4 linked regions of the Homo sapiens genome follow. The protein of the gene in region 3 interacts with the protein of the main gene of each other region in a pairwise test. Each region holds a gene or a part of one and is shown on either strand. Other genes may lie near its edges. The genes, in order: RFC5, GPRASP3, TASOR2 and FBF1.

The links.
Region 1: the proteins of TASOR2 (region 3) and RFC5 interact in binary tests that used the Homo sapiens proteins (3 or more experiments, as listed by UniProt).
Region 2: the proteins of TASOR2 (region 3) and GPRASP3 interact in binary tests that used the Homo sapiens proteins (3 or more experiments, as listed by UniProt).
Region 4: the proteins of TASOR2 (region 3) and FBF1 interact in binary tests that used the Homo sapiens proteins (3 or more experiments, as listed by UniProt).

What each region holds. Positions count from the first base shown.
Region 1 is NC_000012.12:118,026,594-118,033,388, reverse strand, and holds the end of RFC5 (replication factor C subunit 5), read right to left. Parts: intron 6,501-6,795; coding exon 6,371-6,500; intron 5,437-6,370; coding exon 5,359-5,436; intron 3,619-5,358; coding exon 3,564-3,618; intron 2,208-3,563; coding exon 2,111-2,207; 3' UTR 1,155-2,110; downstream 1-1,154. UniProt on the Homo sapiens protein: Subunit of the replication factor C (RFC) complex which acts during elongation of primed DNA templates by DNA polymerases delta and epsilon, and is necessary for ATP-dependent loading of proliferating cell nuclear antigen (PCNA) onto primed DNA.
Region 2 is NC_000023.11:102,744,495-102,752,257, forward strand, and holds part of GPRASP3 (G protein-coupled receptor associated sorting protein 3), read left to right. Parts: intron 1-1,484; exon of another isoform or gene 1,485-1,680; intron 1,681-3,322; 5' UTR 3,323-3,417; intron 3,418-4,204; 5' UTR 4,205-4,501; coding exon 4,502-6,145; 3' UTR 6,146-7,763. UniProt on the Homo sapiens protein: Survival and differentiation promoting protein that plays a role in the regulation of neurosynaptogenesis. Induces phosphatase PP2A activity which results in APP dephosphorylation and inhibits BACE1-mediated processing of APP.
Region 3 is NC_000010.11:5,757,075-5,764,240, forward strand, and holds the end of TASOR2 (protein TASOR 2), read left to right. Parts: intron 1-445; coding exon 446-599; intron 600-1,812; coding exon 1,813-1,918; intron 1,919-4,215; coding exon 4,216-4,397; intron 4,398-5,457; coding exon 5,458-5,572; intron 5,573-5,954; coding exon 5,955-5,958; 3' UTR 5,959-6,666; downstream 6,667-7,166.
Region 4 is NC_000017.11:75,916,618-75,924,380, forward strand, and holds part of FBF1 (fas-binding factor 1), read right to left. Parts: intron 7,025-7,763; coding exon 6,569-7,024; intron 5,430-6,568; coding exon 5,328-5,429; intron 4,944-5,327; coding exon 4,855-4,943; intron 4,686-4,854; coding exon 4,627-4,685; intron 3,813-4,626; coding exon 3,657-3,812; intron 3,491-3,656; coding exon 3,390-3,490; intron 3,258-3,389; coding exon 3,051-3,257; intron 1,653-3,050; coding exon 1,545-1,652; intron 1,454-1,544; coding exon 1,314-1,453; intron 1,234-1,313; coding exon 1,115-1,233; intron 1-1,114. UniProt on the Homo sapiens protein: Keratin-binding protein required for epithelial cell polarization. Involved in apical junction complex (AJC) assembly via its interaction with PARD3. Required for ciliogenesis.

The sequences.
Region 1 (6,795 bases), on a different chromosome or scaffold from region 3:
ACTGTGTTTTTCTCGATTATCTAAAAACCATAGTACTTAAATTGAACAGTTGCAAAGATGTCTTAATTGTGTAAAGAATTGGTGTAGTCATGACTTTAGCTGATACTCTTATGTACGAGATCTGTCTCTGCTGTTTAACTTCATTGGATTAATCAGCTGGTTTCAACTCTACTGCGAAACAAAAATAGCTCCTTAAAAGTACTGTTCTCCTTCAGTGGCATGTAGTTATCTAATCAAGACACCTCATTCAAACAAAACCTGCCTTAGGAAAATTTAATATATTTTAAATTATTTTAAAAGAAATACAACATCTTATTCTTTAGCTTTCTTAATCGGTGCTTTATGGAGGCCAGTGTAACGTTACATGACTCGTTGAGAAAGTTGAGGAATTTCCTCTACCACCTTTGTTGCTTGAAGAAAAACATGTCTTTTCAAAATGAGAGGCTTTCATTGAAGAAAAGAAAAAAACAACAGTTAAAAGCTTTTGGCTCTCTGTTTCATTTTTTTCCATTAAGAAAAAAAAAAGTCCCCTTTTAAAACAAGCAGGGCTGGGTGTGACGGCACATGCCTGTAATCCCAGCACTTTGGGAGGCTGAGGTGGGAGGACTGCTTGAGCCCAGGAGTTCAAGATCAGCCTGGGCAACAGAGTGAGATAAGACCCAATCTTTATTTAAAAAATAAATAAATAAATAGCCAAAAAAACTTAGTGTGGTGCTGGTGTGCATGGTAGCCCCAGCTACTCAGGGGGCTGAGGATGTGGTGGCATTTACCTGTGGTTCTGTGGTTCCGGCTACTCAGGAGGCTGAGGTGGGAGAACTGCTCGAGCCTGGGACATGGAGGCTGTAGCGAGCCACGATCGTGTCACGGTATTCCAGCCTGGGTGACTGACAGAGCATGATCTTGCCTCAAAAAATAAACACATAAAACAAGTAGTACAGCAGAAGAGCTGGGAATGGATTGGCCAACGTTTACATTTCATGGTTATCTTGAAGTTCCAGGTACAGCAGATGCTGAGCCTCTGGGTGGTTTGAGGCCTGGTTGGCCATCAGATATTTAGCTTCATACTTTGCCGCTGTCCTTAAGGGGGTGAGTCCTCCATGAACAAAGGGAATAGTGACTTTTTCCATTTGACAGTTTAAGAATTTGACATTTTATAAAGAACAGCATCTAAAGAAAGTTTATTCTGTGATATTAGAGACAGAAGGTTTTCATATAAATGCAAGTTTGACAAAGTCAGCATCTTTCTAGCTGTCTAAGGAAGAGTCACTTGTAACACAGCCAGCCAGGAGGCTGCTTTGTTTTTTATTATAAAGAACACTAACACAAATGCAGCATGATTGCTGTAAAATAAATGTGAAATTTGTACAAAAGTCCCAGTCCTTCCGCAGTTCTAGGTTTACAGTCAGGCTCAACCTTACTTGCCCCGCTCCTGCATGAAAACAAGTGCGTTTTATACAGCCTCTGCCACCCAGTGGCATAGTTTAAGGCTCTATATTATATTTAAAATTAAGGTTTTTTTCCTATCATACACATCAATTTGGAACCTGCTGGTGACTCTTCTACCACAGAGGGTAAATAAAAAGACCAGTTTTTAAAGTAAGAGGATTCAGCTCATCTTATAAAAGTATAATAGTTTCGGCCAGACGTCCATTAACATCTGTTTAAATTAGATACAGACACAATGCCAAATATTAGAATCATAAATGTAATTTTGGAGATAATGTTTACCTTGAGTAGGAAGACACTTGGACCATATTAAATTTGAAAGTCTTCTGTTCCAGACCAAAATGGGGTAGGCTAATTCCCTGTCATCCAAGCAACTAAAAGGTAAAAACCTTATAACTTTAAAATAAAAAAGGTTATTTTTTTCCCCTATAAAAGACAGGCAGTATGAGTTAATACATTAAAATTATTTTGTACATCCCTGCTCCAAACAACCACAAAAATGGTACTTTTTAAATGCCTGCCCATCCTCTCCTGGAAGGGGGTTTTTCCAAGATTCGGGGTGACTGATTCATCCCACAGCCCCAGGCAGCAGTTTATCCTGGAACTGTCCTCTGTTCTCCCATCACTGCTGAGCCCTGAGAATTGTGAATGGCCCTCAGAGCATCTAGGCCTCTGCAACAATCAGGTCTCTGGTGACTTGAAATGCAGCAATGAGGGAGCTCAGCTGGATCTTCTCGTTGGTGCCAACAGAAAGCCTGTACCTAACAGAAACCAAACACAGGGTAAGAAAAAAGACACCAAACACAGCTGCCTTTTCTTAAGGGACCAAGAGATCTAGGGCTGAAAATCTGTTGAAGGAGTGGGGATGGGAATTGATAGAACAAATGTGCCCTGGATGGCAATCTTGTATGTGTCCCCCTAACATTTTCTTCTCTGCCCTACACATTGATTTATAAATGTGATGTTTCAAACTTGTAAGGACCGATTCAATTTTAAAAATTATTAGGTATCAGGCCGGGCGTGGTGGTTCACACCTGTAATCCCAGCACTTTGGGAGGCGGGCCAATCACTGGAGGCCAGCCTGGCCAACATGGTGAAACCCCCGTCTCTACAAAACAAACAAACAAAAAACAAAAATTAGCTGGGCATGGTAGTGCATGCCTGTAATCCCAGCTCCTCAGGAGGCTGAGGCAGGTGAATCGCTTGAACCTGGGAGGCAGAGGTTGCAGTGAGCCGAGACTGCATCACTGCACTCCAGCCTGGGCGACAGAGTGGGACTCTGTCTCAAAAAAAGAAATAAATTATTAGGTGTCAACAGCGGTGTTCTGAACTTAACTTTGTCCTAACTATACAGATATACAAAATTTATGTAATGAAGGATTATTTCGTCGGCAAAATACGTTAAGAGGGAAACAAAACAGAGATTTCCTTCCTCTTAAGCCATTTCATCGGGAAGTTTGGCTGATACATTGGTGGGTCTGTGGTCTAGTCAGTAAAGCAGGACACTGGAGTTCATCTCGCCACCTTTTAAATGCCCAGCCACTGATAGCAAAATCATCATATTCACAATGCAATGAGGAGAGGTGACCTAATTTGTGCCTGTGAAAGCCAATGCCACAAATTAGAGTTGGCCTATGCTGACGTCTATGTTGAACCCAATGCTCTGTCTACTTAAATGATAGCTGCCAGCTTCACTGGGGGCTAATAACAGTGTTTACGGAACCAGGCAAAGCAGAAAATTGAGTTTGTGTTTACTTTTCCCCCCAATATGCTTTAGTATGCCAAAATGCCTTAATAACAGCTGGGTGGTTGAAGCAAAGCAGGCCTCCCAAATAACAAGGGCATTTTCAGAATCAATGTGGGCCGAGCCTGTGAGGTCCAAGGAGAGGCCTTCATCTCAGATATGTAACTGATCTGTACTTGACCTGTGAATTTATCCCCATGTTCTTTAAGCAGCTCACACCCTTCCCCACATTCCATTCAATATCACCAGACTAGATTGTACCGTATGTGAACGATTTAGGAAAAAAACCTGAAACCAAGAAAGTTGAAACAAATAACTCACAACAGGGGAAAAAAGGAAGAAAAGAATTAAAACTGGGGCAAGAAGTACTCACTCAATGTCTGCCATTTTGGTCAATAAATGTATTCGAACTGAAGATGGAAAGTCAACTGAGGGAAAAACAAAATCAAATGAGTTAGGTCACTCTCTACTGTCAAAAAACCCACAGAGGACAAATGAGTTTCAACATGAAATCCTTAACACTGAACTAGTCCTGAGGCCTCAGCCTGCTCACTAGATACCAGACCTCTAAGAAAGTAGAAACAGTGCTGGTTTCATACTTTTTACCCACTCGATTTTGTGCTTTATAGGGTAGACAAAAAGGAAAATGAGCAGATACCAAAGTGATCCTAAGAGCACCAAAGATCACACTGCTCTTAGCAGCTGGGTAGCTCTACAAGTTAACTTGAATGCTGAGTTCCCACTTGCTGTTTTTATTTTATATTTTACTTTATTTTGAGACGGGGTCTCACTGTCTTGCCCAGGCTGGAGTGCCATGGCATGGCGTGATCATGACTCACTGCAGCCTTGACCTCTTGGGCTTGAGGGATCTTCCACCTCAAGACCCTTGAGTAACTGGGGCTACAGGTGTGCGCCACCTTGCCTGGCTGTTTTGTACTTTTTGTAGAGATGCGGTTTCACCGTGTTGCCCAGGCTGGTCTCAAACTCCTGGGCTCAAGTGATCCACCCATTTTGACTTCCCAAAGTGTTGGGATTACAGGCGTCAGCCACTATACCGATCCTGTCCCCATTTAAAAACCAAGCACAAACAACTGATTTTTTAAAGTTGGTTTATGCTCAGCTTCCACAATCAAGGTGCAGAGCTGGGCCTGAGCCAACCATACCTTGGGCAGAAGGCATGGCATGGGCCAGCCAGGAAGAGGCCTGTGAAGGCCTGGGCAGAACCAACATTCATTGACCCGGTTAAGTCTCCATCTTGCAGTTGGCCACTGTGGAAGGAAGAGCTTCTCCGAAAGCCTACACAAGTCACCTGGGGAGCTTAGAGAATACGGATGCCTGGTTGTCCTCCGAGAAGCTGACTTAATTTGTCTGGAGTGCCCCTATCTGCTGCCAAGGTTGAGAACCAATTCTCTGTGTAGAAGGTACAGGCAAGTGTGGAACTTAAGATGTTTTCCTTAAGCCTGCTTTGGTTTACATGGTTTACATATCTTCTCTTTCTTTTCTGGGAATATATATCTAGATAGACAGATAGATAGACAGACTTTTTTTTTTTTTTTAGAAATGTGAATTAATATATACTACTTACTGCTATAAAATATAAACCCCTAGAGGAAATAAAGTTAGCCTCCAGGAGTTTTCACTTTCCCCAGCAGTTCTAGATATTAAAAGAGGGTTTATGGAACACGTTTTTTGTGTTTTGTTTTGTTTTTTTTTTTGAGACAAACTCTAGCTCTGTCGCCCAGGCTGGAGTGCAGTGGCAAATCTTGGCTCACTGCAACCTCCACCTCCCAGGTTCAAATGATTCTCCCACCTCAGCCTCCCACGTAGCTGGGATTACAGGCGTGCGCCACCATGCCAGGCTAATTTTTTGTATTTTTAGTAGAGACGGGGTTTCACCATGTTGCCCAGGCTGGTCTTCAACTCCTGACCTCAGGTGATCTGCCTGCTTTGGCCTCCCAAAGTGCTAGGATTACAGGCTTGAGCCACCGTACCCAGCTCTGGAACAAAATTTTAAACAGTGGCAAGACAGAACTGCTAACAAGAAGGGTCTGATTTACAATTCATTAGTTTCTTTGCTTCAAGAATGAAGCCTCCTGTCCTAACCATCCTTAACCCCAAAGCAGGCTACCTTCTCCACAGCTTCTCAGCTGGGGGATAATGTAAGTTACCTCTATGCACAAACAAGTGTATCTCTGTCAGGATATCATGCAGTGCCAACCCCTTCAGAGTTTTCAACTCTGTAATATCTAGAGGAGCAGTTAAGGCAAAGGGAACAAGTTCCAGAACAAACATACTGCAGAGAATTTTGAATCCAAACCCGGGCAAGAGACTTTTTAAAGTAAGGCTTTTAATCCCAACACAACTGTTTCTCTTTCAACTTGAAGCTGCACGTGTTGGACTCCAATTCTTTATTTTTCTTTGTTTCATCTTCAGTAAGGGCTTTCTGAAAGATAGAGTTGTAACTCCTTCTAGTAGAGAATAAAGCCAACTGCGTTTTCTTTTTCTTTCTTTCTTTTTTTTTTTTTTTAAGATGGAATCTCCCTCTGTCACCCAGGCTAGAGTACAGTGGCATGACCTCGGCTCACTGCAACCTCTGCCTCCCGGGTTCAAGCAATTCTCATGCCTCAGCCTCCCGAGTAGCTGGAACTACAGGCACCCACCACCACGCCCGGCTAATTTTTGTATTTTTAGTAGAGACGGGGTTTCGCCATGTTGGCCAGGCTGGTCTTGAACTCCTGACCTCAAGTGATCTACCGCCTCAGCCTCCAAAAGTGCTGGGATTATAGGCATGAGCCACCACACCCAGCCCCAAATGCATTTCCAAAAAGGCTTTGTGTCACCATTCCTAGCCTTTCATTTCACAGCACAAGAGCTATCACTATCATGACCACTTGAAAATTCCTGCATCTTCAATGCCAAGGCCTAAGCTTTTCTCCCATCTGTGAGTGAAGCTGCTTCAAGCCTTACCCTGACTTGAAGGTCAGAGCCCTCCAAGAAGAACTCTGGAGTGCTAAAGACAAGTACCCACTCCACCTACAGACATCTCACTCCCACAACAAGCTGACCAGAGTCGCCTGCAGCCAGTCATCCTTTGCCAGCAAGGTGTGGGTGCTGGCTGCAACCTGAACTCCTGGGGCCACCTTCAGGTCTCGGTGGCCAGGAGGTCATGAGAAAGGATACTTCTGTAGGCTGTGGTGAAATCTTGATTCAACATCCAGTCCAGGATGTTGGCAATGTCTGACTTGAGCGGGTGCCCGGTGCAGGTGTAGACAGTCTCCTCTGTCACCTTCCCAAAGGCCATATTGGTGCTCTGTGTAGACAGAGGGGGAAAGGGGAGATCACAGTGGCTGTCACAGCTGCCACCAAGCTGCAGGGAGCCAAGAAGAAATTGCCAAGGCAGCAATGCAGGTGAGCAGCAAAGTTCTATGGGCACAAGGCAGTGGGAACCCACATATTCAATACCGGAAGAGTCACCTCATCAGAGGATGCCACAGCCTGTTGGCTATTCCAGTGCCAAATCCTTCCCTCCCTTTGCCTTCTTTGCAACAAATGATTCCTTTTGTTTTTAAAACATTTTCTTTTGCTCTCTCTTTGTTTTTTGAGAC
Region 2 (7,763 bases), on a different chromosome or scaffold from region 3:
ATTGAAACTCCTGTTTCTCTTAGTATGACTAGTATCTCCTAAGTCACATATATTGGTGTGTCTGATTGAGGCATCCACAAAGGGAATACAAATGACCAGGAAAATGATCATATTTTTCTGCCTCTTTGTGCTCTATATTTTAAAATGCAGGTATTGGTACTTTTAGGAATTGCTTCACAATCTCTGTCTTCCTCTCTTGCTCCTTCCAACACTGAAAAACCATACAGAAAGCAGCTGTGGGTGGCATACTCTGGGCTAAGCCCTGGGGTTACAGGCAGCAAAGACACACCTATGAATTAGCATTGATCTGCAAACCACAGAGGGTACCATGGAATTGTCATGATTCAGTAGCCCCTCACCTCCTTCAACCCTTGACTGACTATACCGTCTACAATGTGCTGAGAATACAGTGGGGAACAATACCAAAAGGGTACTTTCATTCAGGAAACTTCCAGTCTAACAAGTCAAACTCCCCATCGCTTGGAAGGGAGAGTAAAAAAATATATATATATTCAGAAGAAAAAAGCACATGCATGCATTAGGCAGGGTGCAAGGCTGGGAGAAAAGGAGGAGTTGAGGAGCGCAGCTGGAATCTGGGATCTGCCTCGAGGAAGTGCGCGAATAGTGGTCCCCTCTCCTCCCAGAACAGTGGAGAGGCGCCAAGACCATCCCTACCTGGTGCCATCAAAGAGAGAGGACTGTTACGACCTCCTGCGAGTCCTGACAGGGAAAGGCCCTCTTTTGGGGTCAACTGTGGGGACGGCGCAATGCCAACCTGAGCCACCATTTGAAATGAGAAAAAGCGGCGTGGCAGAAAGAAATGAGTCTGGTACAGACCAGTGGTTGGTTTCCTAGGGTTAGAGGTCTAGGTCTACCTTCTGTTAGAAGAGGGGCAGTGGTGAGGCCTTGATGGGAGCCCCCTGCCCCAGAATTCACTTAAGAGCAGGTGTACCTTCCTCCCCTGCGTGGCTCCATGAAGCTGGGAAAGAAACGCACAAGAGGACCACCCTAGAGGCCCAGGCTTGTTTGGCCTGAAATCGCCTCACCCCTCCCAGACTGCACTGCTGACACCCCCTCTCCCATTAGCTTCCAGGAAGGAGAGTGAGAGGGCTGGGGAGAGGGAAGGGGCAGACACCCAGCAGTCCCTGGTTGGGGAGTTGGGGCGGGGGTGCAGACACACCAAGGGGCGGTTTGGTATCCATCCGCTGCTCCCTCCAGCGCGGCTCTTCCCAACCTCCTGATCCTGTCCCCTGCCTGGGTCCCCAGCCGCCCGCCCGTCCCTATATTATAGCAACGCCAGAAATGTGGTGGTGGTGGTCGCCACGTTAGGGTCCGCGGGGGTCCTCCTGAGGCAGCCTGGTGCCAACCCGCAGGCCCAGGCTGGGGCTCGTCATGGCCCCGCCCACCTCTGGGTCGGAACTAAGGTGGGCCTGAGAGGGGGGCGTCGAGCACTTTCGCGCCGTATCCCTCCGCCCCCCTTCCCGACACCCTCGCGGAGAGAGCGGTTCTTGCAGCATCCTGCGCAGCCCCTGCCCAGTTTGGTGCAGAGGCGTGGGGGGCGGGACGCGTCTTTGCCATTCTGATAGCGGGGAAAGCGGTGAGAATCGAAGTGAGGAGCCGCCAGAGGAGAGCTGAGGAGAGGAGGGGGAGGTCGACGACCTGGGCCCTGGGCCTCTGAAGGCAAGTGGGGGTGCGTGAGCTTGGGGTGGTCCGCCAGGGTGGACCGGCTGGCAGCCTGCCCCGCCGACCCTGACATCCTGGCAAGGAGGAGACGATCCGGTCGGAGCCGGTCGCCGGAGAGAGGTGCGCAGTGCTCGAGACCCCTGGCGATGGGGAGGCGGTGACCGGTGCAGGCCGAGCCAGGCCAAGGGCTGAGGGGCTGGCTTGAGAGGCACCGTCAGATCGTCTGGAGGAGAACCGCGCTGACCGCCTCCAAGCCAGCTTTGCAGGCGCCGGCGCCCCGCCCTCGACGGTGTCTGTGCCCGGAAAGGGCTGTGGGGGAGCTCCTGCGGGAGAAATGGCGGAGCGGGAGCCATTGTGGGGGGCTCCCGGGAAGGCCGGGGGGAGCCGGCGTCCCAGCTCTGTGCCCAGCCCACGAGAGGTGGGCCGCGTTCGCTACTCGGGGCCCTGATTCCGGAAAGGGGCCTGTGGGACCCCGTGTCTTGGGTGCTGTCCCTTCCCACAGGCTCCAGGTGGTTGTTAAAGTCTCCTGTCTGCGTGATAGGTCTGTTGGGTTCTCCAAAAGTGGAACTTTGAGTGGGTGAATTATGAAGACACTAAAATGAAATGTTTAACCGCCTTTTATAATACCGCACTGTTTTATTGCCTTACATATTTAGATCCCCACATCCAGTTTTGTGCAAGCAAATAGGGTGTGGACTTAGTCGAATTTCACAACAGTGGTCCATGTAAATAACAGGGTAGTATTTTTCCACCTTTCTTGTTCAGGATCTGTTTTCTCAACATGCTGATCCACTTTAAGTAATGTAATGATGTGTGAGAATGTGGGTTCCGAGTAGAGGGGTAATCTTTTTGAAGGGTCAATTTAGAACATTTGAAGTCAATCTGCTTCTTCAGTTTATGGTTCTGGAAACCAAAACTCCATCTCCAGCCACTCCTCACAGACCCTCTCATTTTGGTGCAGAAATAGTCCCACAGAAGAATTCATGGCATTTCTGATGGTGGATATCTGAGGAGCTATGAGAGTTGGGAGACTTTATTTACTTAGTTTCTGATTCTCAAAAAGGAGGTGTTAGAATCCGAATTCTGGGAATCTGTCCATTAACCTGCTATTTTTCTACCATTGTTAACATAGTCTCTTGGGGTTATTTTTTGCTAGTTGCTCCGCCTTCTTTTTGTAGGGCGTGACTCTTCTTTGGTGGGAAGGATAGCATCTCCTGAGAACTCCTGCTGTATAAGCAGGCTGACATAGGTGGTGAATAAAGTAGGATCTAGGTATGCATGGGGAAGGGGAAGGACATGCACAGATGGTATTAAAATAACAGTCTCCATTATGTTCCCTGCCTGCCTTGTAAGTACAATTGCCTATGTTCCACTACCTATTTCTGCACCTCATTTTTTTTGGTTCAGGAAAGGAGCTGTAACTTCTATTGGGAAAATGACTGACTTCAAAGTTGGCAGGAGGTGTAATCAGGCTGCAGGTCTTGGGGTGATTAGGGAATCATTGAGGAAGAGCAGACAGGTGGGAGACATTTAACATAGCCTTGAATATTCAAAAGCATATGTTATAATCCTTGTTATAGGCATTAGATCATCTTAGTCTCTTCTGTTTTCTTTCCTCTGCCTTCCTTTCTATCCTTAGGTCTGTTTCTTTCTAGGTTCCTGTAGAGATCTGTATGTAGCTGTTCACTTGGAAGTTAATTAAGAAAGAACAAAAACTATTCATTTGGATTCAAGGTAGGTTTATGTGTGAGCACCCCCGTTGATTGGGGTTATGGAAAGGCTGTTGCCAAGTGGGTTAGACCAGATCATATCTTGGTGCCACTGTCTTCCATCTTTCTAGTCACCTCTGACCTCACATTTGTGTACAAGTGATGGGGTGGGGTGAGCCAGGATTATGCCTATGAGGTAATTGGTAGATATTGGGGCAGGAAATGGGAAGATAAGCCACAAGGAGTACTAGGAGGCCAGAAGTGTTATATAACCAAAGCCCTAGATTTGGAAAGGCAGAAATTGGGTTTAGAGATTAGAGTGTAGGTCTGTCAACCAAATACTCAGAACTCCAATCCCATCTGTATTTTTGTCCATAGGCCTGCCCATGAGTTAACTATAGGGCATATCAACACTGCAAACAGGGAAGGAGGAAAAATTGCACTAGATCAGTGCAGGTTGGTGTGAGTGCTGCCTGAATACACCTATGAGGTCTAGTGGTATATATTTTAGTGGTGGACCTACTAGCATGGGTCCAAAGAGACTGGGCACTCCTTTAGCCTTTCTCACTCTCAGCAAGCTTACCTGCCATCTTTGTTCCTGTTTGATGCAGAGTAAAAGAATGACAGTGCTTGGGCAGGACATTGTTGAGCATTAGTGGCAGTGTGCAAGGTATAAAATTAAGTAGCAGAGTTTTTTATTAATCCACTTCTACACAATTCATTTCTACTCTCCTATGTCCTTCTGTGTGGCTGTTTGCATAGAGAAGCACAGTTAGACAAGACTCAAAGCCAGTTTCTTTCTTCAACCTCAGGTCCATCTCCACTGGTGGCTGTGGTGGCTTTGGATTGTTGGAAGACCATCACCTTCAGCAGGTCTGCACTTGGGAACAATCATTCTCCCCCAGCCCGAGCGTGCCTCTGCCCTCTGTATCATTGACAGAGGCTGTATGTTTGGAAAGAGAACTTTGTGACTGCAGAACTGACAGTTGACTCTAATTCTTGCTACCAAGTTTTTCCCCGACCCAGTGAAAGAGTGTTAAGACTTCGACCTAGGACACATTGAGAACCAAGGCCAAGACTGGACAGGGCCATATAACTGGGCTTCAACCATGGCTGGGACTAAGAATAAGACAAGAGCCCAGGCCAAAACTGAAAAAAAGGCTGCTATACAAGCTAAAGCTGGAGCAGAGAGGGAGGCTACTGGTGTTGTTAGGCCTGTAGCCAAGACCAGGGCCAAAGCAAAAGCCAAGACAGGGTCTAAGACAGATGCAGTAGCAGAGATGAAGGCAGTGTCTAAGAACAAGGTTGTTGCTGAGACGAAGGAAGGAGCTCTGTCAGAGCCTAAGACTCTGGGCAAAGCCATGGGAGATTTCACTCCCAAGGCTGGGAATGAGTCCACCAGCTCCACATGTAAAAATGAGGCTGGTACTGATGCCTGGTTCTGGGCTGGGGAAGAGGCCACTATCAATTCCTGGTTCTGGAATGGAGAAGAGGCTGGTAATAGTTTCAGCACTAAGAATGATAAACCTGAAATTGGTGCCCAGGTCTGTGCTGAGGAGTTGGAACCTGCGGCTGGGGCCGATTGCAAACCTAGGTCAGGGGCTGAGGAGGAGGAGGAAGAGAATGTTATTGGGAACTGGTTTTGGGAAGGAGATGATACTAGTTTTGACCCTAATCCTAAACCTGTGAGCAGGATAGTTAAGCCTCAGCCTGTGTATGAAATTAATGAAAAAAATAGGCCCAAGGACTGGTCTGAGGTAACTATCTGGCCCAATGCCCCTGCTGTAACTCCAGCTGTGTTAGGATTTAGATCCCAGGCACCATCTGAGGCAAGCCCTCCTTCATATATTGTTCTGGCCTCCGCTGAAGAAAATGCCTGTTCTTTGCCTGTGGCAACAGCTTGCCGCCCTTCTAGGAACACTCGCTCATGCTCACAGCCTATCCCTGAGTGTCGTTTTGATTCTGACCCCTGCATCCAGACCATAGATGAGATTAGACGTCAAATCAGGATCAGGGAGGTAAATGGGATTAAGCCATTTGCTTGTCCTTGCAAAATGGAATGCTATATGGATTCTGAGGAATTTGAAAAACTTGTTAGCTTACTTAAGTCAACTACTGATCCTCTTATTCATAAAATAGCACGGATTGCAATGGGTGTCCATAATGTTCACCCATTTGCCCAAGAGTTTATTAACGAAGTAGGTGTAGTGACACTTATTGAAAGCTTGCTCAGTTTTCCTTCCCCTGAAATGAGAAAAAAGACTGTAATTACTCTGAATCCTCCTTCTGGGGATGAAAGACAACGCAAAATTGAATTACATGTTAAGCATATGTGTAAAGAAACCATGTCATTTCCTTTGAACTCACCGGGACAGCAATCTGGATTAAAGATACTAGGACAACTGACTACTGATTTTGTCCATCACTACATTGTTGCCAATTACTTTTCAGAGCTTTTCCATTTGCTGTCCTCAGGAAATTGCAAAACCAGAAATCTTGTTTTGAAACTACTTTTAAATATGTCTGAAAATCCAACTGCAGCCAGAGACATGATCAATATGAAGGCATTGGCAGCATTAAAACTCATCTTTAACCAGAAAGAGGCAAAAGCCAATCTTGTTAGTGGTGTGGCCATATTTATTAACATAAAGGAGCATATCAGAAAAGGCTCAATTGTAGTTGTTGATCACTTGAGTTATAATACACTCATGGCCATTTTCAGGGAAGTTAAAGAGATTATTGAAACAATGTAAAATGAGCCAGAGATAGAACATTTTAAGCCATCTTCAAACTCTAGCAGGCTGTACATTACAGTGTACACATTATACACTGCATCTTTAACACAGAGTCACCTGTGACAGGCTCTAGGTTTGAGCTAGACTATTTTGGGGGTATCAAATGAATATTATACCTTGGGCTGAAAATGTTTGATTTTTATCTTGTCTAGATTGGCATATTTTTAACATTTTACTTAAGATAGCAAACCAGTTCGTTTTAAGTAAGCTAACTTGTTCATTAGTATCTGTGGCTTAAAATGGCAAAAAAGAAAATATCCTTGAGTTTGTAATCTAGTTACAGAAGTAAGGCATACACACACACAAAGATAACAGTACCTAGAGAGAGAGTGTGTGTGAGTGTGCGTGTCTCTGTGTGTGCACGTGCACGCTCATGGCCAAATGTGCGCACTCTACATAAAGGAGGCAGGAGTTCCTATAGGCTATTTAATGTAAGAGAAACTATTTTTCTCCTGTTCCAGCTGTATCAGATACTCGTTCCGCAACACAGAAATGACTCAGAATCTCAGACAAAATGTATTATTTGTTCAATTTTAATTTTGCTACTACATTCATAACTCTTAAATTGTTAGGCTGTTTCATTTACATCAAAGTTATCTCACAAAAGAGAAGGCAGGAAACGTTTTGTGAGTGCCTATTCTATGTCAAACACTGTGTTGGCACCATATTTTACAAGTTTTTTTCCTCTTCTCACAGTGATCTTGTGAGTTAGTTACTTATATTTTTATTAGAACTCATTATTCTGGGTACCCTCCAATGAGAATTAGAGAGGTTAAATACCTTTTCCTAGATTCCCACAGCAGGAAGGTGGCATAGCTGTTTTGTCTGACACCAGAACCCATCTCACCACACTGCTTTACAGTCTTCCTGAAGGACATTTTGAGGTGGGGGGGCCTTCAAAGCTCAGAGACTGGTTTGAATGGTTTAATTTTGCAATGGATCATGTCCATGCCAGGTGTTACAATTCTTAACTTCCTCCAAATTCGTGTGTCCATTAGACATTTGGCTACATCTGGCTGGAGGTCAGGAGAAAATTCTGAGGTAAATAGATGGATTTTATCTGGCAGTGTCGAAAATAGTAGGAGCCTAAAACTTTGTTCAATGAGTAAGATGTAGATTTGGAGTCATCAGCAGGGGAAACTTGTTAGATGTCCTTTGTATCTTTTTCTATCCATTTGTATTTTTTCTTTCCCAAAGAGCTGAAATCATTTTATACCCTGAATTTAAAAGGTAATTGCTTTTTTCCTCCTTGCGAAATCATACCTTAATTTTTTTTTTTTTTTTTTTTACCATTTATGATTTATTCTCCTATGTGTCATATGAAAGGCCAAGGGGCTTTATCTTTTACTAGTAGGCAAGCCTGGGCATTTCTGCATTTGTGCCAGCTAACACTACAAAATAGACTTAATTAGAGAAATTTAGACCCAGAATTGCAGCTTCAACAACACAAAACAGGAAAGCTAGAAGAGGTTGCTGTGTCAACCTACAAGATAGTGATTCTTGGAAGTTGGTATGGACCAGAAAGCATTCCCAGGACATTTAGGCTATGGCTGAGTTCTCTAAGACTCAGGGTGGG
Region 3 (7,166 bases):
GCTAGTTGAATCAAAGTAATTGCTTGTCTCAAGAAGACCCAACTACGGACAAAGGCTGGGTGCATAAACCTGCCGTCATCAGCAGGCAGTCGTCGGTGCTGGCACCAAGGGGAGCTGGAGACGAATGACGGCGAAGTGAGGTGACCTCACTTTTCAGTGCCCACAACCTCAGATGTGTCCTCTTCCCTCATGACGTGTTATTTCCAACCTTTGGGAGTTTGAGACCTTTTTTTAATGAACTAATTTTGTTGAGTTTGCAGCCCCTGGTGATGATGAGCTCAGTTAATATGCCTCATGCAGGGCAGAATGACCAGTCGGTAATCCAGGTTGAAATATTTTCAGTTGTTCCTGAACCTTGACTCTCTTGGATAGAAAAGCAAGGGAGTGTCTAAGAAAATGTGCCCAGTGAGCCTCTCTTCACCGGGGTCCTTTTTGTGTCATGCAGATTCCTTCTTTGCTGAAGCTGAAGCATTTCCCCAGTGTCATCTTTGCTGGAGTAGACAGCCCTGGAGATGTTCTTGATCACACCTACCAAGAACTGTTTCGTGCAGGAGGCTTTGTGATATCAGATGACAAGATACTAGAAGCTGTAACATTAGGTTGGTCTTTATTTTCTTTTCCTGTTTCTTTGAAGTCAGATCAACTTCTCACCCAGTGACCTAAATACTGTTTCATCCAAAAGAAATGATCAACTCTAAGGAATATCAGTTGCCCCCTACTGAGGCATAATTTCTGCTGTCTGCTGTGCTCTTTTCATACAGTGATTCTCTTATAGCAATGCTTTTCACCTCTTTTAACTGATTCTTACCACCACACTTGCTTCTGAGTTCCCTCCCTCTCGGTAGTGCAGCTAAGCTCCTAGTAACACAAATTCAGGATTTTATTATATTTAGTCTCTTCACTTGCCAAGTCAGAGCAGCTCCATATTAAATTGTTTGCTTAAAGTCAACCTTCTCCATTTCTGATGTCAACACCCCTACCATCTTGATGTCACAAAAATCTAAAAAATGGCTACTAAGTCAGCTTATTTAATCATCTACTTGAAAACTCATACTTTACTTCTCTCAGGGCACTTTTATGTATAAAACCTGCCCCGGCTCTGATCACATTGGAAGTGATACCACTTCTAGATCAAAAGCAGCATGTACCTTAACCAGTGTGACTTCTACACAGAACCTGGGATTTTAAATATTTGTAGGCACACGTCTGTAATCCCAACACTTTGGGAGGCCAAGGCAGGAGGATCCCTGGAGATCAGGAGTTCAAGACCAGCCTGGGCAACATAGTGAGATCCCATCTCTACAAAAAATAAAAATACTAGCCAGCTGTGGTAGTGTGTGCCTGTAGTCCCAGCTAAGGAGACTAAGGATGGAGGATTACTTGAGCCCAGGAGGTTGAGGCTATAGTGAGCTGAGATCATGCCACCACACTCCAGCCTGGGTGACAGCCGAAACCCTGTCTCAAAAAAAAAGGATTCTGTATTTAGAAACTTCATTTCTCTACTGCATCGGGGCCTCCTGCTTCTCTTCTGTCACACAATTTGTACACAGAACTCTAGTTGCTGGTGACCACTCCACTGTGTTCGTGTCTACAGAGTTATCTCCCACCATAGTGTGAGCAGGTGGGACCAGGCTGAGGGGCTTGTGAGAGCAGGATGCTGCCCAACCACATAAGTGACAGTGATGGTGTGTACTCAACCATGGGTCTTAGTCTGTTTTTTTCTTGTTTTACAAATAATTATCACTGGGCTTGGCATGAGCCAAAAGTACCTTAAACTTGTCATCTTCTTTTGCTACATTTATTGTTTTGTAGTTCAACTGAAGGAAATTATCAAAATCCTGGAAAAACTAAATGGAAATGGAAGATGGAAGTGGTTGCTTCACTACAGGGAAAATAAAAAGCTAAAAGAAGATGAAAGGTAAGGACTTGCTGTGTGTATGGTTCCTCCTGCCCTGCTGGGGTAGCAGAGAAACGCCTCATGTTCCATGGGCTCTAGCCTAGTGCTGCAGTGGAATGGCCTTCATCAGTAAAGAGCATGAGGGCTGCTGGCTCTGTATTCAATGAAGGAAGCTATGTGCTGTGACCGTAGCCAACAGTATGAGGCATGTACTTATCTAGACTAACAGAAGTAAGGGAGTCAAACTTAGCAGTCATGAAATGTCCATATTCTATTTAAGCCCTACTACTACAAACTTTAAAAAATATATGGAACTTGTACCATTAATGCTTTTTTGGATACTTATAAGTTGCCACCACTTTAAGGAGAATGGAAAAATTAAGACCATAATCTATCCTTAATTCAGTTGTACCCTAAAAGAAGAGGCTTATAAATACGCAAACTTCACTAAGTCTAAAGCTGTAATTTATAAAAGAAAAAAATACATGTTTGATTCCTTGGCTGAAGAGAGCTGGGGCTGAGAGATTCCTCCACATTCTCACAAGCAGGACCAATTGGAAAAGCAGACCTGACAAGCCCTTGTGAAATAAGGATTTCAGGCACTGTTAGGTGCATCCATTTTCATTCAGACTTCATCCCCAGGAGCTAGATAGCAAATCCTCACTTTTATAATGCAGAACTGAAGCAGAGTAGATAACAAACATGACCAAGGTCAAACAAGTAGTAAGTTATGAAGCTGGGTTTCAATCCCAGAAAGACGAAACGACTGTTAGCTGTATGTGACCTTTGAGGAACAGAATCTCAGAAAGCTTTTCTCTTGAAGTGGAGCTAGCAAAGGAGAGAAGGAGCACAGAGGTTTCCTTGGCAGGAAAGGAGGGTGCAAAGGCTTCAGCAGGTCAAGGGTATGACCATTCACAGCGGACTTCAGTAACCAGCACTTGAGGGGAAAAACGTCAACTTCGGTAAGTAGAGAAGCACATTTAAGGTTCTGATGTACCACAGCACACCTATAAAATAAGCATAAATCAATCTAGCACTTCTAGGGCTTTGGGTAGAGAAAGTCATGTCACTTAACGACGGGGATACAGCCTGAGAAACGTCATAAGACGATTTTGTCTATGTGCAGACATAGAGTGTACTTACACAAACTGATATGGTAGAGCCTACTCCTAGATTGCAAACCTGTACATGTGACTGTACTGAATACTGTAGGCAGATTTAATGCAATGGTGGTATCTGTGTGTCTAAACACAAAAAAGGTTCAGTAAATTACAGTAGTATAATTTTATGGGACCACCATTGTATATGTGGTCCGTCATTGACTGAAACATCATTATGTGGTACATGCCCGTACTCACTGCTGTTGGCGCTGCAGTATGCTCTTCATATTATACCACTCTGGCATTATGTAACAGGCGTTATGTATTATTGAGAACTCATTAGAAAACTCTTCATATCCTTTGACCTTTTGTGGAATTTACCCAAAATTCTAGGTGGTTATCAGTCATTGCAAAACCAACCTCAGTTCCATCTCTAGGAGGGAGATATGCAGACTACAGTTAAATATTTTAAAGTTTATACAAAATAATGCCCACCCAAAACTTACACAATAGAAGCATGTAAAAAGTTTCTATTCATAGAAAGAGGGATGGCATAAAAGTTGGTATCATGTAACTATGTTCAGTATGATGTCATAAAAAATTTATACAGGAAAAAGTGAAAGGAAATTAATTCATGATGTTAAGAGTGATTATCACTAGGGTTATGGGAATGGGTGTGATTTGGGTTTTCTCCAACAAGCATGAGAATGTAAGTGATGAAAACTAGAGAGACGGGAGTCGAGCAGAGACAGAAATGCTAAAAATTTAAACATACTGAGTTAACACATTTTCCTAGTAGTGATAGAATTTTCAGGGAAGCAAGAAACCAAGAAAATTCTGGCTGCTACCTAATTTTAATGAAGTTGGCGATTATCTGCCCACAAGGTATGAGAAGTATAGATGTGCATTGCTCTACAAATATACAACGCAATAAGGCCCACTCGAAATTCATGAAAGGCTTGCCAAGCCACATGGCTTGATTGGTCGTAGGTAGATGCATGATGTCCCTCTTAGAATGAGGCCCATGTTTAAAATCCACATTTACAAAAGGAGTAGGTACAATTGTGATGTTTTGAGGTAACCAAAGTGTGTCATGAAAAAGAACGTCAAGAAGAAAGGCAGAGGAACTCATGAGTTTGAATGGTTAAACTGAAGGCAAGAAAAAGTCCTAAGAATAAAACTGAAAAATATTTTAATATGCCTATGTATCTTTCACAGAGTGGATTCAACTGCACATAAGAAGAACATAATGTTGAAGTCATTTCAGAGTGCAAATATCATTGAATTGCTTCATTATCACCAGTGTGACTCTCGATCATCAACAAAAGCAGAAATTCTGAAATGTTTGCTAAACCTGCAAATTCAGCATATTGATGCCAGGTTTGCTGTCCTCCTAACAGGTAATTCACAGGCGCATTTTACTCAGTTAATGCCAAAATTGGTCAGCTCTAGGAATGTCAAAGTTAGATACCTGATGAAGAGTATCAGGTATCTAAATGGCTTGGCATCCCATGGATACCAGAATCACCCAAATCTGCTGAAGCTGAAGCCCTTATATAAAATGTAGTATTTGCAGGTAACTACACAATCCTCCTATGTATGTAAGTCAGTTCTAGATTACTTATAATACTCAATACAGTATAAGTAGTTATACCGTATTATTTTTTAAATCAATACTGGGGCTGGGTGCAGTGGCTCACACCTGTAATCCCAGCACTTTGGGAGGCCGAGGCGGGCGGATCACTTGAGGTCAGGAGTTAGAGACCAGCCTAGCCAACATGGTGAAACCCCATCTCTACTAAAAATACAAAAATTAGTCAGGTGTGGTGGTTCATGCCAGTAGTCCCAGCTACTTGGGAGGCCGAGGCAGGAGAATGGCTTGAACCCCGGAGGCAGAGGTTGCTTTTAAAAAATTTGTGGGGCAGCCAGGGACAGTGGCTCACGCCTGTAATGCCAGCACTTTGGGAGGCTGAAGCAGGTGGATCACTGAGCCCAGGAATTTGAGGCCAGCCTGGGCAACTTAGCGAGACCTCATCTCTACAGAAGTTGGCAGGTGTGGTGATGTGTGCCTATAGTCCTAGCTACTTGGGTTAAGGCAGAAGGATTGCTCGAGGCTGCAGTGAGCCGTCATCACACCACTGCACTGTAACCTGGGTGGCAGAACAAGACCCTATCTATCTTTAAAAAAAAAAAAAAAAAAGTGTTAAGAAAAATTTACGTAAAGAACCATAGTTATCATTTTTCAGGGATTTTTTTTCAGTACTTTAACCACCACCCCCGATGGAGGCATCTATTTCCAAAGCTTCAAATCTTTTCTTAATTTGGAACCCAACACCTTTTCTCCCCCTACCCCTCACACGAGGAAGTTCCACAGATTTTTTAAAATAAAAAACCAGGTCCTGTTATATAAAAGTACATTAATTATATTAACCAAAAGTTGTTTTTTTTTTTTTTTAACAGACAAGCCTACTATCCCCAGAGAAGTCTTTGAAAATAGTGGAATCCTTGTTACAGATGTAAATAACTTTATAGAAAACATAGAAAAAATAGCAGCTCCATTTAGGAGTAGCTATTGGTAAGAACACTTTTTATGTAACTTTCCCATGTGAGTTGGAGTTGTTGATGGCAAATATTGACATTTGTGTCTAAGGGAAACAGTTGGGAAACTGTTGTTTACATACTTCATGCTATAAATTTAAAGTGTTTGTTTAGGGGTGGAATTGCTATTTGGCATAAATAGGAATTCCTAAATTATCACTAAATGAAGTAACCATCTACTAAAATTACCTATTTTATCTAATGTGCATTTTCACTTGCTGTTAACTTGGATCGTCAGTACAGAACATAATGTAACCTTAGAATGCATAGGCGTTTTCCCCATTAGAGCATCCCGCTTATAAAATATTTCTTGTTCGTATTATTTTAAGAAGTTCTTTATCAATTTTGTGTTTCTTCAGGTGACTCAACTACAGCCTGCCTGGATATGGATGATGCCAATAAAAAATTAGTATTTTCCCTTTGGAAAACTTGTGAACATGTGAATACACATGTGAACAGTCTTACATTTGAAAAACCAATGTTCTACAACTTGGAAAGTTTTCATTTTTTATATTTTGCTGAAATATGTCACAGTGGCATTGCAGTTGTCTGTTAGCTTTGGGTTGCAGTGCTAGATATTGTTTTAAATTATTTTCATTTTAAACAAGATGCCTTCTAAGCTATTGAGCTTATTAAAAATAATTTTACATGTTTACTTAGTTGGAGCAAAAATAAGTCTATTTTAACAAATAGCTTTGTTTTTGCATGCTAATGTCAGAAAGGCATACGATGCACATTATGCTCTGTTTTAAAGGTTTTACCACCCTTGTAAAAACTATAATCTTAAATGGTTTTATTTGCTGTTACACAAACAACACTACATAAAACATTTTTTCCTAAATGGTACAAATTTATAAACTATCATTTTTCACTTACGGTATTTGTAAATACTACACTACAAAAATCAGCTTTCTGAGAAAGAAATAATCATTTATTTATGATATTGAAAATTTCTACAGTAAACACTCAAAACCAAGCAAAAAACATTTGTAAGATACACGGTATCTATTTGGAGCAACGGTTTTTGTAACTAATGTGTTTCATTTTTTAAATAAAGACAACTAAAAATAATCTCTTTCTGCAATGATTTTTATAGCAGAAATTGACTTATCTGGAGTGTTCTAGCAATTTTTAGGTCATTTAGCAGAACAGTAAGCTTCCAGAGGAAACCTACACTTCTATCCTTTGGGCCTGGCCTGTTCTGTTTCTGGGTTCTTTCCGCAGTCAAGTACACCGAGTAACAGGTTAAAGAATGGCAGTTTCACCTGGCCTTTACAGGGACACTTACTTCTTTCAGAAGTCATTAAGTCGGCTTTTATTATTCCTAAACAAAAGAGCTTTATTTTCTCATGAGTAGGTTTTAGAGTTTTAATTGTTGACAATTTTTCAGTTACTAATAGAACCCCAGTCATTTCATTTTATTTTTCCAAGGACAAGAGTCTATTAAGGGAACCATTAACTATTCAGTACAGTGAATTACTTTCAGATTACTAAGGAAAAGGAAAGTGAGCAGTTATAAGATGCCAAACACCTATCTATCTGCCTGAAATATGCACCTTTCAGGTTGGACC
Region 4 (7,763 bases), on a different chromosome or scaffold from region 3:
CTAAAAAATAACAGTGCTTTGTAAAACCTTAGAAGATGATAACTACTAGCTGAGGACAAAAAGATAGGTGGGAGGACAAGGAAGGCTTTGTGGAGGTGGTAGCATCGAAAGATTCATTACCATTGAATTCAGCCTAGAAAGATTTCCACAGGTAAGGAAAAGGATGTGAGCAAAGGCAGGGACTGCAGGTGTGCACCACCACACCCAGTTAATTAAAACAAAATTTAAATGTTTTTATTATTTATTTTTTTGAGACAGAGTCTCGCTCTGTTAACCAGACTGGTGTGCCATGTTATGATCTCCACTCACTGCAGCCTCTGTGTCCTAGATTCAAGCGATTCTCCCACCTCAGCCTCTCTAGTAGCTGGGATTACAGGCGTGCGCCACCACGCCTGGCTAGTTTCTTATTTCTTTATTTTTAGTTTCACCATGTTGGCCAGGCTGGTCTCGAACTCCTGACCTCAAGTGATCCTCCAGCCTTGGACTCCTGAAGTGCTGGAATTACAGGCATGAGCCAACTTGCCTGGCATAAAAAAATTTATTTATGGTCTCGCTAGGCTGGTCTCAAATTCTGGGCCTTAAGTGATCCTGCTGCCTCAGCCCCCCAAGTAGCTGGGATTATAGGCACAGGCCACTGTGCCTGGCTAAGGTCATCATTATTTAAATAAAGCATGTGCTTATATATGAAAGGTATCTAGGGAATTCAAATGTCTCTGTGAGAGCTGAAGAGGCTAGGATGACATTTAATGGGCAAGAGCATCTGTCCCAATGTCAGGCCTCAGCTAATGTGACAGATTCGAGTGTCAGGAAGTGGGAAGTGCAGCTGATGGTTGCGGGGGCTAGACTGCGGAGGGCAGCCAAGGTGGCCGAGGGGCTTGCGGTGCTGAGGAGCGGACAGGGCGTGGTGGGGGGCCTGGCCAGGCGGCCCCTGCATGCTCAGGTGGGCAGTGCTGAGAGCCTGGCCAGGGCAGGGAGATGTAGAGGCAGGAAGCGGCAGGTGGGGCCTTGACCTCCTGAGGAAGTGAGGTCACGGGAGTGCCGCTACACTTGCGGGTGCCCTGGAGAAGAGGCCCCGTGGCAGGAGGGGCAGGAGGGCCAGGAGGACGGGCCTCACCTGCTCCAGCAGCCGGCTCTGCTCATTCAGCCGTGCCTCCATCTTCCCGATGACCTCCTGTTGCCGGCTCCGCTCCTCCTCCATGTCCCGCTGCTGCTGGCCCAGCCGCTCCTGCAGTGCTGGGGGCAACCCACAGGGTGCTCAGCAGCTGCTCCCCCTTCCCACCAGGAGCCGGGGTGGCTGAGAGGGGAGGGCGTACCCCGCAGCTGCTCGTCACGCTGCCGGATCCCCAGCTCCCGCTCCTGGGAGGTGGTGAGGTGCGAGGCCTCCACGCGGGAGGACAACTCGTGCAGGCTGCTGGAGAACTTCTCCATCTGGTGGATGATGCTATTCAGGGACCTGGAAGAAGACTGGGTCACCCCCTCCTGACGGTCTCGGGGACCTTCCGGCCCCCAACGTCAGGCGGGCATGGTTGGGGCAGCGCACATACCGCGTGTGGGAGGTGGCACTGGTGGCCGCATCGACCTCTCGGTCCTTCAGCAGCTTTAGCCGCTGCAGCTGCTCCTCGTGGTCTCTGCGCATGTCTAGGATGGACGCCCTGAGGGGAGGCGGGAGGGGAAGGCGGTCACTCTGAGCTGGATCACCCTGATGCGGTAACTCCTTGTGGAAGGGTGTGTTTCCGTGCAGCCCTTGCTCCCAGGCCTCTCCTCCGCCGGGCACTGCCTCAGTTTCCCCAGCTCCTCTGTCTTATCTGTCATGGTGCCTCAATGCTACACGCACTAAGATGGGCATTCCTCCCATTATTCAGCTTTTCTTTTTTTGGAGATGGAGTTTTGCTCTGTCACCCAGAGTCTCTCACTCTGTCGCCCAGGCTGGAGTTCAGTGGCATGATCTCGGCTCACTGCAACCTCTGCCTCCTGGGTTCAAGCAATTCTCCTGCCTCAGCCTCCCGAGTGGCTGGGACTATAGGCGCTCACCACGCCTAATTTTTTATATTTTAGTAGAGATGGGGTTTCCACCGTGTTGCCCAGGCTGGTCTCGAACTTCTGAGCTCAGGCAATCTACCCACCTTGGCCTCCCAAAGCACTGGGATTACAGGTGTGAGCCACCACGCCCGGCCCCAAGCAGTCTTTCTTTTTTTTTTTTTTTTTCCTAGAGATGAGGTCTCACTATGTTGCCCAGGCTGGTCTTGAACTCCTAGCCTCAAGCAATCCTCCTGCCTTGGCCTCCCAAGTGTTTTGTTTTTTAAATGTTTTTAGAGACAGGGTTTTGTTCTGTGGTCCAGGCTGGAGTGCAGTGGCATCATAGCTCATTGCAGCCCTGATCTCTTGGGCTGAAGGTATCCTCCTGCCTCAGTTTCCCAAGTAGCTGGAACTACAGGAGTAGCTGTCATGCCAGCTTATTTAAAAATTGTTTTTAGAGATGAGGTCTCACTGTGTTGCCCAGACTGGTCTCAAACTCCTGGCCTCAAGTGATCCTCCCACCTCGGCCTCCCAAAGTGCTGGGATTACAGGTGTGAGCCACTGCACCCGGCCCTGAGCAGTCTTAAAAGGCTGCCTCTGCCTTCATCGACCTCTGACTCCCTTAGGTAACTTTTCTTAGTTTCCTTCTCTTCTAGAAAGGCAACCCTATAAACATGGCAGGCACAACAGCGCAAGCCTTTCCCAGGTGGATCTTGTTTCTAGCCTCTACTGCATGAGCAGGCGAGTGGATGACCCTGTGCTTAGTTAGACCCTAGGCGGCTTGCTGCTGCCATGCCATGCCTGAACAGCCTGTGGGTACCCCCTCCTGCCTCTGTAAGAGCAGGTGGCACCCCCACCCATGGGTGTGATGGGTCAGTGTGCTCAGCCCTCAGTCCTCACTCACTGGACTGGGAGGGAAGGACCCAACCCCTGTCCAAAGGCTGCTGAGCCACAGCGAAGGGTCTCGTGGGGATGGCTCTCTTCCGGCTACTCCTTGCAAGCCTGCTCCCCAGCTGCCTGTCCCTGGGCCTCACCGCTGCAGCTCCCGGAGCCGCTCCATTTCCTGGTCCTTCTCCTGCGCTATGGCCGCCAAGCGCCGCTGGTGCTGGGCCGTAAGCTCAGCACGGGCCTGTTCGGCCTCCTGGCACTGCGACAGATACCGAGCTGACAGCTCTTCGTTCTCTCTCCGGAGCCGCTCCTCCCGTTGCTGGTACGATGTTTCTAGCACCTTGATGCGGCTTCTGCCAACAGAACACCCAGCCATGGCGCAAGGAAGGCAGAGGGCTGCCGCCTAAAGGCCTCTCCAGGCACACTGGGTGGCCTTTGGGGTCAGTGTGAGATCCAAGGCAGAGCTGGGGCCAGCGCCAGGGTACCTGTGTGCACTCTCGATGAGCTCCAGGTCTGCCTGGTGCTGCTGCTGCAGACTCCCCAGCAGCAGCTCATGCTGGGCCCGTTCTAGCTCCAGCTTCCGCACCTGGGAGACAGCAGGAGGGCCAGCAACCAGGGAGGGGAGGTGGCTGTACTCCACGCTGCCCTGTGCCAACAGCCCTTCCTCCCTCCTGGGGAAGCTTCCAGCCACTCTCAGTGTCCCCTCCTGTCGCAACCCTGCCACCAGCACCAACGGCCCCGCTGCCCCTCACCTGGGCCTCCAGCTCTGCCAGCCGGGCCTGGCTATGCAGCAGCTCGGCCTGGAGCTCAGCGGGGCTGCACTGAAGTTGCACCTGTGCTGCCAGGAGCTGCTTCTGGTATTCTGTGCTCGGCAGCAGGCTCCGGGCCAGGGACTCTGGGAGCAGGGGCTGGAGGAGAGGAAGAGAGGTGTTTCTAGTTAGGGAGGGGACAGGGGCCCAGCTGAGATCAGCTACCTCCTGGCCCACTGCTCACTGGACCTCCCTGCATCTGATCTGTGGCTGCAGATGGGGCCAAGGCCTTGGAAAGTAACAGTCACTGCGGCTAAGCAGTCCCCAGTGTACCTCCCCTTGCAGATCTGGTCAGGAGCATGTCTCCCTCCACCCTCCGGAACAGCTTCCTCCCCAGCATGGTCTCCGGCTTCCCAGACAAATGGCTGAACCCCAGCAGAGTCTTCGCTATGACAAAAGCTGATGCTGGCTTTTCCTGTCAGGCCTGAAGCCCACATGTTGACACTAATCTGGTTCCCACGAGCTGTCCCCTACCCACCATCTCCCAGGGACACACTCCTGGGGGGGGGGGGGGCACACCTCCCAGGCCCAGGTGTCACAGGTGACTGCCACACATGGGAAACAGAGGCAGAGGTGTGGTGGGAGGATGGCAAGGGTGGAGGAGGCTTTCTTGACAGAACAGGACCCTGCGGCCCTGCTTTCTGACTGCAGCATCCCAGCTCCCCGGCCTGGCTGCCTCCTTAAACTCCCCACTGATGTAGGCAAATTAACACCCAGCTCTGCCCAGGAGCAGCGAGGCTAGAAATTCAGGCAAGTTCTAGTGGGGGGTGCCCGGGGAGCTGGCTGACGTCACATTTGGTATGTTTGACACATTTTTCCTGGCAGGTCGTCAGGTCAAACTGTGGGTATTGCCCCTGGGCATGGAGAATTGCTCCCTAGGCCCTGAGCTAGACCTGTCTGCCCACACCCCTACCTGGACGGGCACGGAAGGCTCTGTGGGTTTCTGGGTGCTCGGGAAACACGTGGCAGGCTCTGAAACATCAACAACAGAGAAATGAACAGGAGGCCCAGGGCACTGGGCCTGCGAGTGTCCAGGAGGGGCTGGTGTAACTCATGTCCCAGGGACCCCAAAGGAAGCTCAAAGCACCTCTTCCTCACCCAGGGTTAAACTCCCAAATGAAGCAGCAAACAAAAAACAAACCAGTGGCTGAGAGGTCTCCAGGGGCTGTTCCCCTCTTTGGGGAACCTGTAGGGAGTGCTGAGGCGGCATGGTTCTGAGTCACAGGGGACCTGAGGACACAGGGATGGGGCATGGTGAGCAGCCTCTGTGTGGGACACGGGGACGGGGCAGGGTGGGCAGCCTCTAGGTGGGACATGGGGACGGGGCAGGGTGGGCAGCCTCTACGTGGGACACGGGGATGGGGCAGGGTGGGCAGCCTCTGCTGGGACACGGGGACGGGGCAGGGTGGGCAGCCTCTAGGTGGGACACGGGGATGGGGCAGGGTGGGCAGCCTCTGTGTAGGGCACAGGGACGGAGCAGGGTGGGCAGCCTCTGTGTGGGACACGGGGACGGGGCAGGGGCAGGGTGAACAGCCTCTGTGTCCCTCTCTCAGGACAGAGGCCTGTGCTGCCCACCATGCTCTCATTCCCACTCAGCCCGCAGCCCAGGCCTACCCCGAGACACCAGGCCTGACACACGGTCTTTCTCGTGCAGTTGTTCCAGAACTCCCTCCAGCAGCTGCGTGCTCAAGCCCTTGTGTGCTGGTGAGAGGTTGGCTGAGGAAAGGCAGCGTTCAAGGTGAAGGTGACAGAAGGCCCAGGTCAGGCTGGATGAAGACAGGGCCCAGGACGGGCTTCACACGTGAAGCTCGTGGCCCCCCTTCCTCCTGCTTCCACCATCCCGTCTTGGGGCATTCTCCTCCCACGTCTGAGCTCCTGGGATTTCTGGGCATCTCTTCCCTTCCAGTACCCCCTTCCTGCCTCAATGTCCACAGTGGTGCAGTGAATGGACACTGTCCAAGCAGTGACAACGGAAATGTTATAGACACTGGAGTCAAGTTCAAGTTCAGAGCCCTGTTCCAGTCCACTTAACTTGGCTCAGCTCTAGATTAGGATTCTGCTCAGTCTACCAAATCTGGCTGGCTCCCTTTCCCATTATTTCCACCTCTTTCTCGGCTCACGGGTCAGTGAAGAGACAGGCTCTTTTCTGTTTTGGCCTGAGCTTTCCCCTCGGCCTCAGGTCAAAGTCAAAACTGCCCTCCTGTCATCAACCCCAGGACAGGGTGATGTCCCTGGGCTGTCACAAATTGCCCAGTTCACTCCCCTGGGCTCTGGCCACAGCACATCTCACCACTTCCTCTGGACTCCCCCAGCCTGCTGGCCCCTTGTGCCTTCCTGCCTTCAGAGGTCACTCGCTATCCTGCCCCACGGATAAGGGCTTCTCCAAGAGGCGCCTCTCGGCCACTATGTCTCCTCTAACACTCTCAAAGAGCACAGGGACATCTCAGCTCACACACGCCATACTCGCTTCAGTGGAGTCGGCAGAAGCACCGGCTGTTTGGATGCCGGGGCTTCCAGCCTGAGGGCGCTGTGACAGGGCAGCGGTGTGTCTGCCACCTCAGGGACCCTCTGTCTTCTCCTCGATCAAGTTAGCACCTGTCCCCATGGCGGTCAGGGCATGAATGTCAACAGCCCTCCTTCTTGGGTATGTCCCTGGGGCAAGCCTGGGAGCCAGAGGCTCTCTCTGCAGTGCCTAAAAGGCAGAGTAGCAAAGCCAAGAAGCGGCCTCTGTGGCCACGGCGCCCTGCCTTGTTCCCCAACTGCTGACTGAGGCTGCAACAGGTGAAGGGGCAAAGGGGCTCCTCAAGTCCCCAGCCAGTCCTCCCCCTACTAGCCACAGCAGCCTAAGTCAGTACCTGCCAGAAGGGGGATGGCCCGCTGTCCCCGCCAAATGCAGGCCCTCAGAGGTCCCAGCATGCTGCTCTCTGGCCAGGCCTTGGGACTTCTTCCGAGACAGGGCATGGCTCAGCCAGTCCTCTTTCTCCTCCTTGGAGGCTCGCAGCTTGGAAGCCTGGCTGGCTTTGGCAGGGGACCCTGCACCTTCAGTTGGTGGCTTTGCCCTGGAGGGGGGCAGCCCAGCTGGCGTGGAGTGCTGGCTCGCAGGAGGAGGCACTGAGGGCGTGACAGGCACTGAACTTTCCCGATGGGCCTCTCTGGTGGGTGAGGCAGGGAACAGGTCCAAGTCCTCGTCCTTGAGGCCCAACCAGTCAGCTCCTCCCTTCCTGGGCTGGATGGGGCTGGAAGCCATTGGAGGGCTCTGTTTGGAGCCTGGTTCTCCCTTGGGGTCTGCGCCACTGTCTGCGAAGAACCTACTTCAAGACAGAAAGGAGGGTGTCAGGCAGGGGAAACAGCCAGTCCCAGTGGCCCCCTAGCAGCCTGCAGCTGGGCGTCACGATGCCCAGGGACCCTGCACAGTCAGCTGAGGCCCAGTGAGCAGTGGCTCCTGGACCGGCTCAGGTGGCAGGCCACGTGCTGTCTGTAGAACACCACGAAGTACAGAGACCTTGACTTCCATCACATGAACCAGGGACAGTTCTACCCACAGAGAACAGGAACAGGATCAAATGACAGCCATGGGCACACAGGTCTAAAGAAAAATCAGGCCGAGCACGGTGGCTCATGTCTGTAATCCCAGATCTTTGGGAGGCCAGGGTGGGCAGATCGCTTAAGGCCAGGAGTTCAAGACCAGCCTGGCCAACATGTGAAACCCCATCTCTACTAAAAACACAAAAAAATTAGTCAGGTGTGGTGGTGGGCGCCTGTAATCCCAGCTACTTGGGAGGCTGAGGCATGAGAATTGCTTGAACCCGGGAGGCAGAGGTTGTGGTAAGCCGAGATCATGCCACTGCACTCCAGCCTGGGCGACAGAGTGAGACTCTGTCTAAAAAAAATAATAATAAGTTGGATCAAGTGGTTTCCAGGTTTTCCAACAACAGTTACTTCATTTGTTCGGCCGTGGCCTTCATCTGTCACTGACCAGTGGCAGCAGGTTCCCAGGGTTAAGAACGTACTGGGTATGGGAAGTAATGCCGATGTGCTTAGAGCTATTCA